2 separate regions of the Homo sapiens genome follow, and region 2 is linked to region 1. Evidence: fine-mapped expression QTL. A gene starts in region 1. The other region holds a variant in brackets. All regions are shown on one strand. Distances are between the middles of the regions. Region 1 holds the start of KLHL30 (kelch like family member 30). Region 2 overlaps UBE2F (ubiquitin conjugating enzyme E2 F (putative)).

The links. PIP is the estimated chance that this variant, and not a neighbour inherited with it, causes the effect.
Region 2: its variant is fine-mapped to the expression of KLHL30 in whole blood (TOPMed, PIP 0.92).

Annotation. Positions count from the first base shown.
Region 1 is chr2:238,133,415-238,142,272 of GRCh38, reverse strand. It overlaps KLHL30 (kelch like family member 30), which reads right to left and starts at 3,605. Exons shown (of 8, transcript NM_198582.4): 1 at 3,515-3,605; 2 at 745-1,588. The coding sequence starts at 1,518. RefSeq lists an enhancer at 836-1,349.
Region 2 is chr2:238,023,441-238,032,298 of GRCh38, reverse strand. UBE2F (ubiquitin conjugating enzyme E2 F (putative)) reads right to left here. Exons shown (of 10, transcript NM_080678.3): 6 at 6,887-6,957; 7 at 1,686-1,743; 8 at 45-77. It overlaps UBE2F-SCLY (UBE2F-SCLY readthrough (NMD candidate)), which reads right to left. Exons shown (of 19, transcript NR_037904.1): 5 at 1,686-1,743; 6 at 45-77. It also overlaps the pseudogene RNU6-1333P. Among named protein-coding and RNA genes, the nearest start is that of SCLY, 33 kb to the left of the region's middle. RefSeq lists an enhancer at 3,588-4,201. The variant G/A (reference allele first, on the strand shown) is at 4,065.

The sequences.
Region 1 (8,858 bases):
GGACAGGGGTTAGGGTTTAGCCCACTACTCACTCCACCCTTGGCCTGAGGACCATCAGTCTGAGCCACTCTTTGTCCCCGGACTTGGCTCTAAAGGAGTGCCCCGAAGCAAGGCCCCTGAGCAGGGTGCCCGGCAGCTGACCGAACAGCCACTCCCAGACCTGTCATTCCATCATGACCTGCCATGCCTGCCAGGCACACTGCCAGCACAAACAGGAAGTAGCACCCCATAAAAGCTCAGGCGGACTGCCAGGCCTGTCTGTGCCTCCTTGCCTGTGCACAAGCTGCACCTCCTTCCTGGATGGTTTTCCCCTCTTTTCCTCCTTGTGAGCTCCTATCCCTCCTCTAAGGCCCAGCTCAGATGCTGCCTCCTCCAGAGAGCCCTCCTTGACTGCCAGCCCACCCAGAATGCGTCCTAGGCATGTATTTGGCCCTTCCACACTGCCTGAGGTCTGTTTCCAGGCTTGTCCCACTGAGCTGCAGGCTCCTTCAGGACAGGGCCAGATCTTACCACTTCCACATTCCCCTGCCCCTTGCACACAGGGCGTGACACACACAGAGGCATGATCTGCACTTGAGGGCTGAATAGTGATGTCCTCATGGGGAACTGGCCCAAAACAAGGAGCGTGGCAAGGTCAGAGTGCACCTTGGAATGTCCACTCCTTACTCTGTCCCTACTCAGGTGGGGTCTCTGGGGCTCTCCTCCCTGCTTCCCAGGGATGGGGCCTCCCAGCCGCTCACTCACCCCATCATGGCCCTGGGACAGGGCTGCCCGGCATGCCTCTGACTCCTGGATCAGGGGCTCTGAGGCCAGCAGTTGCTGCACGCAGGGCCTGGGCACGGCGTCCAGGTGCACTAGGCTGAGCAGCTCGGGCAGGTGGGCGGCCCGGGCCTGCGGGTCATGGCGCACCCAGCGCATCAGGGCCTCGAGTCGGCTTTGCTCCGGCTGTACCTGCAGCAGGTCGCCGGCCAGACAAGTGACCAGCCGCTCTCGGGGAAGCTGCAGGAACTCGTCCTCACGTGCCACAGCCTCAAAGTTCTCTCGCAGGAAGGCCCAGGCCTTGGCAGCCACGCCCAGCAGCCCTTGCTGCTCCCCGAACTCACAGATGCCCAGGCAGTTGGCGGCATCCAGTTGCTGCTGCAGGTAGCGGCCGCAGACCTTCTGCACCGAGGGGAAGTGCAGGCGCGCAGCCGTGCGTGTCAGCGCCTCCACGTTGCCCTGCGTGATGGTCAGCCGGCCTGTGTACACGAAGTCCACCAGTTGTCCCACCACGGCGGGCTCCACGTCCCGCAGCTCCACGCGCGCAGAGAAGCTCTCGGCGAAGTCACCCGCAAACATGGCATGGAAGTAGGGGCTGCTGAGCGCCAGGAGGCCGCGGTGGCATGGCAGCTCCCGGCCGCCCACCAGCAGTGTGACGTCGGCCAGCTTGGGCTGAGAGCGCAGGCGCTGCAGGCCATCCAGCATGTCCTGGGCATGCGAGGGCAGGTGGAAATCCAGGTCATCCACGTTCCGCACCATGACGCCGTGCCCAGGGGACCTCAGTAGTCCACCCACTCAAGGGAAGAAGTGCCTGGAGCCGCCCGAGCTCCTAGGAGAGAAGAGAGCAGGGTCAGCCAAGTGGGGATGGTCTCATCCTCCTGAGCAACCCACCCGGTCTGTCCATCAGCCCTTTCCACCCCTTGATAAACACAGGATGGGCATCGACCATATGCCAGTCACTTTACCCCCCATCTGCCTCAAGCCACCCCCAGAACCCTGCAAGGTAGGGCAGGTGTCATTCCCATTTGCAGTGAGGAAATTGAGGTTCAGAGAGGGTGGGAGACCTACCCATGGCCAGGCATTCAGGGCAGAACAGGGTTGGCAAAAGAACCCATGCCCTGGGTGTCATCTGCAACCCTGGGCTACACTGAGCCCACCCCCCAGGGACCCCGGAGACACCCAAACTCCCGGGAGGCGTCCTCCGTCCCAGATCCCACATTGCTGGGGAGGCCATTTGGGGGCTGCAGCAGCTCCTGCTCCCGCGGTGCTCCCAGGTGCCAGGCCACGTGCCAAGCATGCAGAGAAGCTGTGCATTCACCACTCAGCCCCACAACAGTCCTGGAGGGTGGGTGCAATCATTGCCTCTTTTACAGCTGGGGAGACTGAGGCACAGAAGGTTTCAGTCACTTGCCCAAGATCACACATTTAGGAAGTGGTGGAGCTGGAATTTGAACTCAGAGCTAGGCTTGGGGGCCCAGGCTCTGAACCCTGCATTCCACGTGGCCGGGTGGAGGCTGCTAAACAGAAACGGCCAGCCAAAGGCAGCGTTCTGGAGGGTTTCGCGTCACCACGCCCGCATGGTTGAAGTCAGCAAGGCCGCTTTCAGGCTCATGTAATTATGTGCATGTGGTTTATGTCCTTCTGGTATCGCACCCTAAGACAACCATCCCTAGGAGAGATCAAGTCTGTGCACAAGCCTTCGACCCGGGTCACCCCAGGGCGAAAGGCTGCGCAGCGGAGAGGCCGTTCGCCCGCTAGGGGGCGCCTCGCGGGGCCATCCCGGGCAGGAGAGGCGGCCGCGCGTCCACAGGTACAAAATGCGTGGGAACGCCACGCATGGAAATGACAAAGCTCAGCTGGAGAACCAGGAGGCCAAGAATCTGGCCCGGGCAGCCACGGTGCAGGTACAGGTGCAGGCGATGGGAGCTAGGGCTCCCCGACTTCCCGACCCCGGTGCCACCTCTTGACCCCAGAGCGGGGAAGCACCTGGGAGCCCACAGGGCCTCGCGGACCAACCCGGGCTCGCGCACAGGGCAGCTCACGTGGCCGGGGCCCCACACCCCAGCATCCCGGCCGGTACACGAAGTACCCACCCAACACTGCATGCATGGGGTTCCTGCCTGGCCCCTCCCCAGGAGGCGCTGGCCCCGGTGAAGGCGGCTCTGCCCTCCCTGGGCAGCCGGGAGATGAGCTGGGGCCTGAGTAGGTGACAGGGCTGTCCCTGGGCCACCGCCTGCAGGCCTCACATTCCCGTCATTGTTGTGCTCCCTTGGGCCAGCTGCTGCCGGGCGATGGGCAGGCACGCATGAGCGCCCCCACTTCCCCTGGGGGCCTCGGGGTGCCTGCTGACACCTGTCACCCTGCAGTCCCTGCATGGGTCGGGGCTTCCTGAGGGTCTCAGAGCCTCACCCCAGTGCCTGCCCAGGCCCGGAGTGAGGAAGCCGAGTGGGCAGGACAACAAAAGGCCTGAGCCCAGCCAGGCTGGCGACTGTGGCTGAGTGGCCCTGGCTGCCATCTGAGGGGTGGCCCAGCCTCCCCCTCCCACCTCTCCGGCTGGGACATGGAGGGAAACCTGTCTCCTGAGCCCCCACCCTGAGGAGCCTGGCTTGGCCGCTGGCAAGGGCCAGGGGGCGTCTCCAAAGCACCCTGCTGTGATCCCTGGCCTCGGGGGCCTAACCCACCCTCCCCGCTGCTCCTGGCTGGGTTCCCCCTGCCCTCTCTGCTGTCCCCTGCCCCAGAGCCCCCTGGATCCTACCTCTCACTCAGCCTGGACCTCGAAGCTGAGAACACAGACCCGAGAGAGCAGGACTGCCTAGCCGGCAGCCAGGGGACACGGAGGCCTGCAGGGCGGGGCAGGGCTGGTCTGGTGGCCACGTGGGGAGGGTATTTTTAGCCTCTGTCTGCAGGGCGAGGGGAGGGTCAGGCAGTGAGGGCTGGGCTGGTGGGGGAAGGAGTGAGATGCCGGCTCCTTGGTGACTGTTAGCTCAGAAAGCCCACTGAGGCCTTCCAGGGACTTGTGGCCTAGGACAGACATCAGGAAGGGCTCCAGGGCAAGGACAGGTGAAAGCTGTCGCGGTTGGGCTGGCTGGTGGGGGCAGGGATGCAGCTTCCCCACCTGTTTCCTCGTCTACAAGTTGAGTACAGTGGAGCCCGTGGTGGGGGCCTGGGGTCACAGAGACCCTCAGCCCAGGGCCAGGACACCGACAGGTGCTGCCCTCGCTGTTGATGTCAGCGGCACCTATGTGTCCTCTTGTTCTGTTGTCACGTGGGAAAACGTGATTATCATGAATAAGCACAGGTTGGTCAGCAGAGGCTTTCCGAGCTTGGGGTCCATGGTGGCGGTAGGGAAACTTTGCCCAGAGAGGGGAGGTGCCACACTCAGTTGCCCCGCCCAGCTAGCGTGGATAGGGGAGATCTTGGGGCTCCTTGCCCTGCTACCCCATGGCCTTGGCCTCGGGGCTGCCCAGGACGGCTAAGAAACAGGGTCACCTAAAAATACAGCAGTGGACTATCAGCCTCCCGTCCAGCACTTGGTTCACGGTAGTCGCAGGGGGAAGCTCTCACGCCTGGGACTGAAATGGGCTCAGAACCACAGGCCCTGACCAAGGTCAGGTGGGTTGAGTTGGGGACCCAAGAGGCCACTGGACATTTCTCACACCAGTGACCAGAGCAGAGCTTTGTGGCTGAGGGACTTCAGGTGCATGGGAGAGAAGCCCTCAGCCCTCAGCCCTCTACCCATCGGCCATGTGGGCCTGAGCAGTATGACCATTTCCAGGTGTGCTGCGACCTGGAGGAACTGGGGAGTATTGGGTCTGGCTGTGGCCTCTTGATGCTACTAGGGATTGTCCTAATGCTCTTACAGACCAGAGAGGTCCAGGCGGCCCCCAGGGAGACAGAACCCCACTCCTGGTCCTGAGATGCACACAGCCTATGGAGGGGAAGCTCACCTACAAATTACTGCCAAGTCTGCAAGGTGCCCTTAGGGTTACCTTCCATAGAGATTCCCTGAGTCCATGCTTCCTCTACAGCCCAGCCTGGCCCAGCCATAGCCCAGCCATAGCTCAGCCCAGCTCAGCTATTGCCCAACCATAGCCCAGCCATAGCCCAGCCCAGCTCAGCTATTGCCCAACCATAGCCCAGCCATAGCCCAGTCCAGCTCAGCTATTGCCCAACCATAGCCCAGCCATAGCCCAGTCCAGCTCAGCTATTGCCCAGCCATAGCCCAGCCATAGCCCAGCCCAGCTCAGCCATAGTCCAGCCGTAGCCCAGCCGTAGCCCAGCCCAGCCTGGCCCCTGCTCCTGCTCTTTCCCCTGCTCGTGTCCCACACTGTCCCAGGGTTTTTCCCCAGCCTTGGGCATCAGCCTCATGTTGTGTGGGGGACCCTCATGGAGGACCCCAACTCTCGCTGTGTCCAGGACCACTATGGGGTGGGCGCTAGAGTGTTGGGTTTCCGTACTGTCCCCCTTGTTTGCAGTCCTGGCTCGGGCTGGAGGAAATGAGGACAGGGGATTCTGATGACAGGCTGCTGTCACGGGGAGCTGGCTCTGCTCGGGGAACAGCACTGCTTGCCAAGTGTGGAGGCCTCACAGCAGCCGTCGTGGGGCTCGGAGCCCCAGCACCTCAGATGACAGGTCAGTCTGGGAAACTCAACACCGGGGGCGCAAAACAGATCCTCCATCAAGAGATTGCTACTGAGTGGCGCAGTTTTTAAAAATACACCACTTGTTTCTTTTTATGAGGATAAAAATAACACAAGTTCCTTTTGGAAAACAGAAAAATAAAAAGCAGAAAGTGTCATTAGTAAAAGATCATTTGCCATTAGTATGCTTCCAGCTCTTTCCTGTTGTCAAAATGAGCCTGCCTGCGTGTGTGGGTCAGCGCCCTTTCCTCACACCTTGTTATATTGTGGGCGTTTCTGATGGGATCAGCACTTGAAGATTTTGAATTTCTGCCGGGCATGGTGGCTCATGCCTGTAATCCCAGCACTTTGGGAGGCTGAGGCGGGTGGATCACCTGAGGTCAGGAGTTTGAGATCAGCCTGGCCGACATAGTGAAACCCCATCTCTACTAAAAACACAACAATTAGCCAGGAGTAGTGGCGGTGCACACCTATAGTCCCAGCCCGCAGACCCTCCCGCCCCAGGCCAGGCTTCCGATGACTGCAGTTGGGCTGAGCACTTCATGGGACCCTCCTGAGACATCCTGAGGTGCAGCCACCCCACACACGTGCTCCCGAGGAGAAACTGAGAGACGATGCGTGTGACCATGCGTGTGTGCTGTTCAAGGACATTGGATTTCAGGCAGTTGACTATGCAGCACTAGGTCACTAGTACAGCAGACAAAAACATGTAAACAGCAGAGCAATGGGGGGCTTCCATCTCAGATACGAAGATGTCATCATTACAGCGTAAAATGCCATCAAACAAGGTGGTTTTGACCCAAGAATAAACAAATCCCAACAGCCAATGCACAGAAAGCGGTGCCACGGCAAGTCCGCAGGGAAGGAGGGGCCGTCTGACGTGTGAGAGTGCTGGTGAAAGGGAAACAAGGTCAGCCCGATGGAACCCAGGCCCCAAATCACCCCAGATGGAGTGAGAGGTGCTGTGCAGGGCTGTAAGGCCCCCGAGAAGGGGGCAGACTGATATGCGGACCCAGCCTGGGACATCCTCACAGCTGGAAGGCCCCCAGCCCAGCAGAGGGGAGCTCACTCACACAGTTTTTTGTTTGTTTGTTTGTTTGTCTCTTTGGAGATGGAGTCTCGCTTTATCACCCAGGTTGGAGTGCAGTGGTGCAATCTCCGCTCACGGCAACCTCCGCCTCCTGGGTTCAAGCGATTCTCCTGCCTCAGCCTCCTGAGTAGCTGGGATTACAGGTATGCACCACCATGCCCAGCTAATTTTTCTGTATTCTTAGTAGGGATGGGGTTTCACCATGTTGGCCAGGATGGTCTCCTGACCTCAAGTGATCTGCCTGCCTTGGCCTCCCAGAGTGCTGGGATTACAGGCGTGAGCCACTGCACCCGGCCTTACAGATTTTAACTCGGTGATTTCACGCTCGGAATCCATTCTGAGGGAATAATCACACAGGTGACACCACCTTCATTGTAATAGTCCCAAATGGAAAACAGCCTGAGCGTCCACGAACAGAAGGAGGTTATCACTCCCAGCTTCACAAAGAGCAACGTCATCCTATTGAGATGAAATTGAAAATCTTTTTTGTTTTTGAGACAGAGTCTTGCTCTGTCACCCAGGCTGGAGTGCAGTGGCATGAGCTCGGCTCACTACAACCTCTGCCTCCCAGGTTCGAGCAATTCTGCCTCAGCTTCCCGAGTAGCTGGGATTACAGGTGCCCGCCACCACGCCCAGCTAATTTTTGTGTTTTTAGTAGAGACGGGGTTTCACCATGTCGGCGAGGATGATCTTGATCTCTTGACCTCGTGATCCACCTGCCTCAGCCTCCCAAAGTGCTGGGATTACAGGCGTGAGCCACCGCACCCGGCCGACATTGAATTTTTAAATGAGCTGGGCTTTGCATTAAGCCTGTGCACCGACATGCAGGGAGCCCGCCCCTCTGCACATTGACCCAGCTGCGAGGGAGAAGCTGGGGTTCCAGCACCGCCCTTGGGGAGGGTTTCTGTTTTTCCACATCTCCATCCTGCCATCTATGGACTGGGGACACGGGGCTCCCTTTCTCCTGGATGTTTCTGACTCATGGGAAGCCCCCAGGCTTTGCGCCTTTGCTTTGCGTGTGACCACCTCACTGACATCGGCACCTCCGGGGTGCTGTAGATTCCGTCTCTGGTCCTCAGTGAGTCTTTTGTCAATTGAACAACAGATTTATAGGCACCAAATGGGCCCTACAGCTGTGAGTGTGGTGGCGCAGGGGCCAGTGCCTGCCTGCCCCCGGGGACACGTGCTTCCCACAGGTGAGCTGCTGGTGGGCCACGGGTGCCAGCTGCTGGGAATCGGAGCCGCCTGGAATGTGTTAAAACCCCAGCTTTCCAGACCTACCCCAGGCCAAGGGAATCAGAATCCCTGGGGCAGCTCCCCCAGAGGCAGGGTGTTGGCAGAAGGTCATTTAGGGGTCACCCCAGCAGCACTCCAGGGGCCTAGCCTGGATCTGAGCCACATCTCACCCCTCGCCTGGCTCATCCCACCCCAGGCTCTCCTGGGACCCCTGATGTGTGTGTCCCCTGCTGGCCTTGATCCAGCTCCTCAGCTGGGAAACTGAGGCCTGGAGGCTATGGAGGACTTGCCCAAGGGCATAGCGAGTGGGCAGGGACAGCCGGAGCCAGGAGGGCCGACTCCCTGCCCAGTGCTCTCTCTTGAGCACCCTCGGCCAGGGAGTGACCTGAGGCCTGCTGCCCCTGCCTCCAGCCCCCTCCTCTGTCAGGGCCCTCAGAACAACATTGCCAGCAGCTGGTGCATGAGGGGATCTCAGGAGACACTGCAGCGCCCAAACCTTCTGATGCCCCCAGCCAAGGGCTCTCCCTAGACCCACCTGCTGCCCCTTGCCCTCTGCCAGCCCTGGGCAGTGACCGCACTGGGTGGAGCAGCCCTGCTCTGTCTCCACTGGGGGCGTGTTGTGGCCAAGAGCCAGGGCCCCACTGACTGAGAGGCAGCGTTCAGGATGCTCCTGGCTGCTCCCAGTGCCCTGCTCGTTAGAAGCAGCTCAGAAACACCTGTAATCCCAGCACTTTGAGAGGCTGAGGCGCGCAGACTGCTTGAGCCCAGGAGTTCAAGACCAGCCTGGGCAACATAGCAAGACTTTGTCCCTACAAAAAATAAAAAGAAATTAGCTGGGCATGGTGGCTGACACCTGTAGATTCAGCCACTGAATCTACAGAAAAGAAAAGAAAAAGAGAAAGAAAGAAAAGAAAATGAAGGAAAGAAAGGAAGAAAGAAAGGAAAAAAGGGAAGAAAGAAACAAAGAGAAGGAACTCTGAAATGCTGGCTGCACGTTGGTGAGTGTCTGAGACGATGCTGTTTCCCCAGCACAGAGGCCCCTCCCATGTGGGACCTGCATCCTCCTTCACCACAATCCCAGGAGCATGAGGTCCGCATGCATCCCAAGCTGCAAATGAGAAACCAGAGGCTCT
Region 2 (8,858 bases), 110 kb after region 1:
CAAGGAAATTGAGAATAACTTGGGATTTTGATCACTGTACTTACAGTAAACAAAGAGTTTAATCCCCAAACGACATCCTGAAATAAAAAAGAAAACAGAAAACAAGTTTTAAGCCAAAGTGCACCTAGTCTTTTAAACCCATGATCAAGAAATATGCTTTGCACTGTATCAAAACCTGTCTTTAGCATGGTTTGTTTTTCTCAAGATAGAAAATTAAAATAACTTCTCTTCAAGTGTAACAACAAACTCTGGAAAATTCAAAGATATGAGCAGTCTCAGGTAGTGAATATAAAATCAAAGATAGCATCAGACACCCTCCCAGTCAGACCTGACAAGCCCAATCCTGCACGACAGGGCCCGCAGGCCAGTGTCTGCATAGGGGCTCCACCTTAAATCACCTCTTACTTGTTACCACCAAATATGGTTCTGACTTCTAAAAAGTCACCTTCAAAATAAAGTCTGTTGTTTTTACATCTACTGCCTCTTGCGGTCGTAGATAAGTTAATTACCCCTCATCCTATTAAGTTTTCTTAATGATTTTGCATTAGTTATTTAAAGAATCATAGAAGATTCACAATTCAAGGATCAGAGATTTTCATTAAATAAAACTGAAAGCCAGAGTTGTTCTATCTGTACTGACCTGCCATCTGTGAATCACAAATTCATTCTCCATTTTCCTCTTCATCAACTCAAGAGTTTCGTCCTTTTTAGGCCTGTTCTCATGCTCCTCCCCTACTTTTTGCTAGTTGGTAATTTTATTTGCCTTTCTCTGTTTTCTCTAGTCCATCAATCCATCCACCCACCCATCCCTGACCTTCCGATGTGAGCCAGGCCTAGGGTTGGAGTGTGGGTGAAGGTGAGCCCTCAGCCTGAGGAAGGGGGATGTACAGATGGGCAGGTCAGCAGGCCAGCACTGTTCATGAGACGTGTTCCCCAGAGCACCCACCCTGGGAGGAGAGGCTCCAGAGGCAATGACAGCCATCTGAGCCCCAGGGGAGCAGGAGTCTGCCAGGGAGAGGGCTGGAGGAGAGGGCCGCCTTCCAGGTAGAGGCACGACCTGCAGAGGGAAAGTTCTGAGAGGGCAGGACATTTCTAGAGCGTGGGGAGAGGCTAAGAAAAGGCTGGGTGGGCTGCCCATGGTGGCAGAGACTACAGCTCGGAGGAGCTGGGTCAGGACTGCATGCAGTCTGCAGTGTTCCCTTATGCAGGGCCAGGGCCAAAAGCCCCTTCCTGTGCTGTTCCCCTAGGGTCCCTGCCTGATGTTAGGTACCCAACACCTGACAGTCTTCTCTGGCCATAGGGAGTGGTTTGCACATCAATTTGCTGCTCCTCCTCCAACACCTAGTGGCCAGAAAAGCTCAAGACATCCCTGTTGAATGAATGATGGCCATGAGGTTTCCTATGTGGCGGGTGGTTTGGCTGTGAAGCCTGCAGTTTGGGCTCCTATCTCTGGTTCTAGAATGGTGCCTGGCAAAGTCAACAAGGATGCTCATCCGGCCCAAACTGACCGAGGTCAGTGACTGGCTAAGTAGCCTAGGCAGCAGGGAGAAGAGGAGGCAGGGTGTGTCCGGCCACTGGTGTGGATGTGACAGGCAAGGACATGTGCTGCTTTCTCGGGAGGCTGGCTACTGCAGGGAGAGGACCACAGGGACAACTTATGATCAAGATCAAGGCACAGACTCTACCTTTAATGTTCTTGTGGGAGCCCAGCCAGTGCCATCAATTGAATGTTCTCTCAATAAACTGAAAAAGACAAACACACAGTGGTTAGTGAGGAGCAGCCACAGGTGCCCTGCACGCTGCCAACTAGTCCTCTCGGTGTGTGCCATGCAGGAGCTCTACTTTTTATTAAACCCATCTTTTCCTCTGTGGCTTCTCAGTTTTCTCTTGCTGAGGAAGGCATTTCCACCTCCAAGGTTATATACATATTCAATTATAACGTCTTGTGTTATGTTTATCTATTTGTTGTAATACTTGACATGGAAGTTTTAGGCTGAGGAAGAGCATGTTTAAAACAACACACAAAGAACATTTGTCAATTTAATATTCAGAAAATGACAATGGTGGCTGGGTATGGTGGCTCATGCCTGTAATCTCAGCATTCTGGGAGGCCGAGGCAAGGTGGGAAGATAGCTTGGGTCCAGGAGTTTGAGACCAGCCTGGGCAACACAGTGATACCCTGTCTCTACTAAAAATTAAAAATTAGCCAGGCATAGTGGTGCACGCCTGTACTCCCAAAGGTGGAGGACTGCTTGAGTCCAGAAGTTCAAGGCTGCAGTGAGCTGTGATGGCGCCCCTGTACTCCAGCCTGGGAATAGTGTGAGGCCCTGTCTCAAAAAAAAAAAAAGAAAGAAAGAAAGAAAATGACAATGGCAACAAAATGACAACATGACAACAGGAGTAACTGAAGCTTAGAGCTTATTATGTGTATGTCAGGCACAATCCTAGGTGCTGTGCCATTAAATTCACTTAATGCCTATAACCACCCGTGAAGAGAGCATCCCTGTTTCCCTGTCTTATACAGGAGGAAACCAAGGCACAGAGAAGACACGCCCAAGGGCACACGCCTCATGAACAATGTTGTTCTTCCAACCCAGGCAGCTCACGGGCACCGACATTCTGAAACACTGCTGATGCAGGTTAACAACAATGGGAGCTCCCAGCATATGACATTTTAATAACTGGGTTTTTTTTTTTTTTTTTGAGACGGAGTCTCTCTCTGTCTCCCAGGCTGGAGTGCAGTGGCACGATCTCGGCTCACTGTAAGCTCCACCTCTCCGGTTTTACGCCATTCTCCTGCCTCAGCCTCCTGAGTAGCTGGGACTACAAGGCATGCACCACCTACGCCCGGCTAATTTTGTTTTTTGAATTTTTAGTAGAGACGGGGTTTCACCGTGTTAACCAGGATGGTCTCGATCTCCTGACCTCGTGATCCGCCCGCCTCGGCCTCCCAAAGTGCTGGGATTACAGGCGTGAGCCACCACGCCCAGCCGTAACTGGGTTTTTTTTTTTATTTTTTTAAAGTTCAAAAGAAAAAGCTTGAGGATAAAAGATTAATGCAAAATTCTGAGTATCAATCACTCCTTAGGTGGGGGGCCCATGCTCAGGGAAGGCACACCAGGATTCAGAGGTCTGATGAAGCCCTGTTTCTGAAGCTGGTACCTGAGAGTCCTGGTCATTACTGTCTATCAGCTGTAAAGGCACACCATATACTCTCATGGAAATGATCATTCCAGTGCTCACTTCCGCAGCACATATGCTCAAATTGGGATGATACAGAGAAGATTAGCATTTTCCCAATAATCTTAAAAAGTAAAAAAAAAATTTTAAATAATTTTAAAAGGATTAAATGATCATTCCATACTTTGAAAAAAGTATAATTTATTGCCAAGCTTCCTTCTGGAGATAAAATTACTTTTGTATTTGTTGAATTATTGTGCTGTGGCTTTGATCTGTAAATAAAATATCAGGCTTTATCCATAATTGTTACCTCTGATAAACTTTTTTGAATTAGAGCATGTTTAAATTCACAAAAGTCAATTCAGATCAGGAGAAAAATATGTAGAGTTTGAATCAAAGCTATAATCTTAATTGTCTGTGAAGAGCAGTTAAAAAAAACAGATAACTAACCTTAAATTGACCATTAAAATTTACTTTTAGCCTTAAAAAGAAAAAAGGAAAACTCAAATCATGTATCCTACCAACTGGGTGGACGTCTTTCTACCCTACAGAGGTATTGGTGACTTGTGGATCTGAATTGTCAACTTCTGAATAACTTTTTTGGGAATGAAGTCAAATCCTAGTGGCTATATTTTGTTGAATGGAGGAATTATTTCTGATCTAGCTAATCATTTTCTTATATAGATCTTAATGCAACCTTCAGTTATATATTTGTCATTTATTTGTTGAATGCCTGTTTCATCCATAAAAGCAGGGAATGCTAATTCCTCTGCCAGTGCCTAAGCTCAATCAACATTAGCTGAATGAAGGAGAAGGAAGCTCACCCTGAGCTTTGCTGTTAACAGCACAGCCAGAGCAGGAGGGCTTTGCATCTGGCTGGGGCA[G/A]GTAATGGGGAGGCAAGGCCGGCCCCAGCATGTGGTGGCCACTGGTCTGGGCAGCAGTGAGGCCCATCAGGGGTGCAGTGCCTCCAGTCACTGAGGAAGTTCTAGCCTGGCCTCACAGAGGATAGTCCCAGCAACAGCTCAGGAGACAGAGACACTTGGCTATCAGAGATGTCATTAAGCAAGGAGACAAAGGACACCCCACGAACTGTAATAGAAGCTTGGACTCTAGGAGAAGCTTTGACTGAGCTCTTGACCTAGGCCCTCCAATCCCACAGACATGGAGCCTCTGACCTTGTGCCAGAGCAGGCGAAGGGTCCCTGCCGGGACAACAAGGTGGAGCCAGGGCAAATCTCTCTAAAAGAGGAAGGTGCTCCTGTGTGCCAGCACTGAAAGGCCTGTGGAGCCCCAGGCACCCATCAGTCCTGCTGTGGGAAGGGCTGATGAGCTGCTGTCAGCGTCACCACAAACCAGAGGTGCGGTTGGGCTTTTCCTTCCCTTTATTCGGGACACACCATAAAGCTGCCACTGGACACTGTCTGCTTTTCACTAACAAGGTGGTCCCCGTACATCAATCTGGCACATTATTTCCTTAGATTAAATCCCTAGAAGTGCAGCTGACAAGTCCAAGGGTACATACGAGTTACAGGTAGTCTACGTGGCTGAAGGACCAATGAAAGGTGTGCAAATACACACACCCTCCAACAAGAGAGCCTGCTCGCTCTCTGTCACACACTCCTCCCCCAGCCACCAAGTATCTACCTTTGTGCCTGCCAATCTGGTGAGTGGTAAGCCACACTTCATGGTCTTCTGCGCCTTTCTCTGGTTACTGATGAGAGTGAACATCTCCTCAGATATTTACTGCCCACCTCTATTTCTCCTTTTATGAATCACCTATTTGTAGCCAATGCCACATTTTTCCAGAGAAGTATCCGTCTTTTTTATAATGAATAGTAAGGACTATTTACATACCAAGGATGTTAATCCAGTTGATCATTTCTTCTTCCATTTTGTGTTTTTAATTTTTACATGGTCAAATCTGACAATCTTTTTCCTTAAGACGTCTGGCTTTTATATCAGGATACCATCTGTTCATCCTTATAAGGCTTTGCTAATCATCTGACTTCCCAGAAGACGGCAAAAGGGACAAGAGAGCTTCCTATTCTGGACCCATTTCTGACTAAGGCAGGGACAAGACAGGGAAGTAGAGTATGGCCCCCCAGAAAGTGAGCCAGGTGTCCTCACAAGCACAGGAGGAAGCGGGGCAGTGGGGGCCTGGGCCAAACACATTTATAACCTGCAACCAAAGATAGTGGAATTTTAATGTTTCAATACGTAAAGGACAGATACTTCAAAGGGAAGATGCTTTTTTAAAAAGGTATGTCTGGTAAAATGTATTTTTAACCATCTGTGAAAAACGAGGCTGATATTGAAGAAGGAGCAGTATATACAAAAATGAAATGGGCAAATGGGCACTAACTGTACTTGTGAAGAGAAAGGCATCCGGCCCGGCGCGGTGGCTCACACCTGTAACCCCAGCACTCTAGGAGGCCGAGGCGGGCAGATCACAAGGTCAGGAGATTGAGACCATCCTGGCTAACACAGTGAAACCCAGTCTCTACTAAAAAATACAAAAATTAGCCGGGCGTAGTGGTAGGCGCCTGTAGTCCCAGCTACTCGGGACGCTGAGGCAGGAGAATGGCGTGAACCTGGGAGGCGGAGCTTGCAGTGAGCTCAGATCGCGCCACTGCACTCCAGCCTGGGCAACAAAGCGAGACTCCATCTCAAAAAAAAAGAGAAAGGGATCCTGAGGTAAGATTTCCAGCAGCCACAGTTTACACATTTCCTTTCAAAGGTGATTAGTGTTTACTAAGGAGAGAGGAATGAAAGAAAAGAGATACGGAAGTTGAGCATGAGAAATGACTTAGGCCACTAATTGCATTTCATGTCAAAAGTAGGAGAAATGTGCTAAGAAAACACTTTGTGCCTACTTTCCAAACTGGCTGAGTGTGAGGCACATACAGTTCAAATACCTAGCCTAAAGTCCCACAGCTGCCCCGGGCAGCCGGGCAGGGGTGGGGGCGGGGGCGGCGAGCTGGACTCAGGTCCAGGTGGTCTGATATCAAAGCCCCTGCAATCAACCTTGCTGCCTTAAAGTGATGAAAGGGACAAAGTGCAGAAAAAATAAAGCCCAAATGTGAAACTTACTTTAAAAACCAACCAATCCACCTACACAACTTTTCCAGCAGCCTTAGGAGGAGAAATCACTGATGCCTGACGTTCTGCCCATGCCAGGGATCAGGGACACAAGTCACAGCAGGCATGAAGCTCCGAGAGGCTGCCTGCCCTAAGTGCCCTGACATCTATCAGGACCATTTTGGTAGAGAGAGGGCAGCTTAAATACAAGTGCCCAAGGTCGTCTCAAGCCTGCCATCTACATTTTTTCTCCTGGGTATCTATCATTAATCATATTTTCTCATCTTAGCTAAAATCAGCCACATGGAGGGAATGTGGTCTCTCATGTAAATAGGAGGGGAACAAGGCAAGGGACTCCAAGGGTCCATCCTGGGCAGGCAAGGAGGCTGCACTAAGAACTTAGTAGGGCTGTGGCCCCCAGAGGGCCAAGAGAAGACACTCGTCTGGAGGCAGAAGGTAGGGTAGGGTTTGGGAGCAGGCAGGCAACCGCAGCTACTTCAGCTGAGTTCAAGCCCTTCCTAATCTTGGCCATGCCTCAAAATCTTTTCAGAGGAGACAACATGTTTAAAAGCCCAACGCTTGCACATGACACTCACGAATGTAGAAGAAAGAAAAGACAATAAACTCACCTCAGACATATTTCCCCTGTCTCTGTGATGTTGGGGTGCCAGATCTTGGTCAGGCATTTCACTTTGGGAGGCTGCAACACAGAGACAATGAGAGAGATCACGCCGACAGTCTCTGCAAATCACATCTCCAGGCCAGAGCCTTACCACATCCCCTATCTAGACGCTTGTTTCATGGCTGACTCAGTGTGCAGTTTGACTCGCTGAACACGTGTTCAACCCTGAATACTGGCTCACCTCACCCATGAGGCATGTGTTGATGCGCTGCATCCACAAGGGCTAGTCTCAGCAGCAAAGTCTACCCGTGGGCTTCTGAGCACCTCTCTACAAGCCCCATGTGTCCTGCCGGCTGACAGTGCTGGTGACTGGACCTCTGTCACCTCCCACACCCCCTGGGTTTGGGACTGCAGAAGGTATCCACAGTGCACTCTAAGGAATAGTTCTACATCCTCTGGGTCCAAATCCAATCAGAAGCCCCAGATTCCTTTGCAATACAAGTTACTATGGCTGAAAGTTACTGCTCCTTGCAAGAACAGCCTGTTCCATTTGCTGGATTTTTCTGAAGATGCTATTGTCACATACGTTTTCCTAGATGAAAGCCCTAGTCCACTTTACATTTAAAGGAGAGAAAGAGAATGAAAATGAATTTGTGGGGATAAAGTATATCAACATCATTTATGACTTGGCATGTTTGGATAAAGTTCTTTTAAGATTTTTCTAGTTTGGGCATGGTGGCTCACTTTGGGAGGCCACCTAAAAGAAGAAAATATAATTAATGATAGATACCCAGGAGAAAAAAATCTCAGCACTTTGGGAGGTCGAGGTGGGAGGATTGCTTGAGGCCAAGGGTTTAAGATTAGCCAGGGCAATATAGTAAGACCCTGTCTCTCCAGGGAAAAAAAAAGAGCTGGGCATGGTAGCTCCTGCTTGTAGTCCCAGCTACTCAGGAGGCTGAGGTGGGAAAATCACTTGAGCTCAGAAGTTGTAGGCTGCAGTGAGCTATGATCGCACCATTGTACTCCAGCCTGGGTGACAGAGCGAGTCCCTGCCTCCAAACCAGAAAACCAAACCAAACCAAACCAAACAGATTTCTCTGTTACAAAGGCAATCCATACTCAGAGAGAAAAGGACAACACAAATGAAAAGAAACATACGTAAATATCTAATAAATTCTGCTGTCTTTCACTTTTGTTTTTTATGTAAGAATATATACACTCCATCAAAATGCTACCCAGAAATTATGTGACACCTGATGTACATGTGTTTATGCCTCTTTTCTAGGCCACACACATAGTGTGCATGCAGCATACTCATTTTTCTTTATAGAAGAAAGCTGTGCTACATATGTTTTAGTTATTTCTGCCATCGTTTCAGATGGCATCCTGCATTCCATGGTACACCTGCCCGAGTTTAATAGGCACTTCCCTACCTCTGGGCCCTCAGGTTGCTTCCTCTTCTCCCAACCCTGCTCTATCAATGCAGGGTTCATCCTGGGTGAAATGTTTCCTCAGGATGAAGCCCAGGAAGAGGATCTGCTGGTCATAAACCCTAGCTTCTGATACACTGCTCATGTCCTTCAGAAGATGTGACACCCCGCCCGCCAACCCCACCACAACCTGCAGTAAGGGAGAGGGCCTCTTCTCCAGGACCTCCCACAGAAAGGTCCCCTTGGTTAATATGCAGAAGTGTCAAATCACAGGATCTCATCAGAAAGGTCATCTCAAAAAGGAATCAAACCTTTGTGAAATGGGTAACATTTTCCCTGTGTATCATCTGCTATTAACTTTTATTTATGATGCTTTCTGAGGAGTTTATTTTTGTAATCAAATTTTTATCTTTGATGCCATACTTAGAAAATACTTCACCATCCAAATATCCTCTTTAACTTTCTAGTAAACTTTTATAGTTTCATCTTTTTATTTATTTGTATAAAGCAAAAATACTTTTTCGACACTATAATGAGCATTCTTCCTAA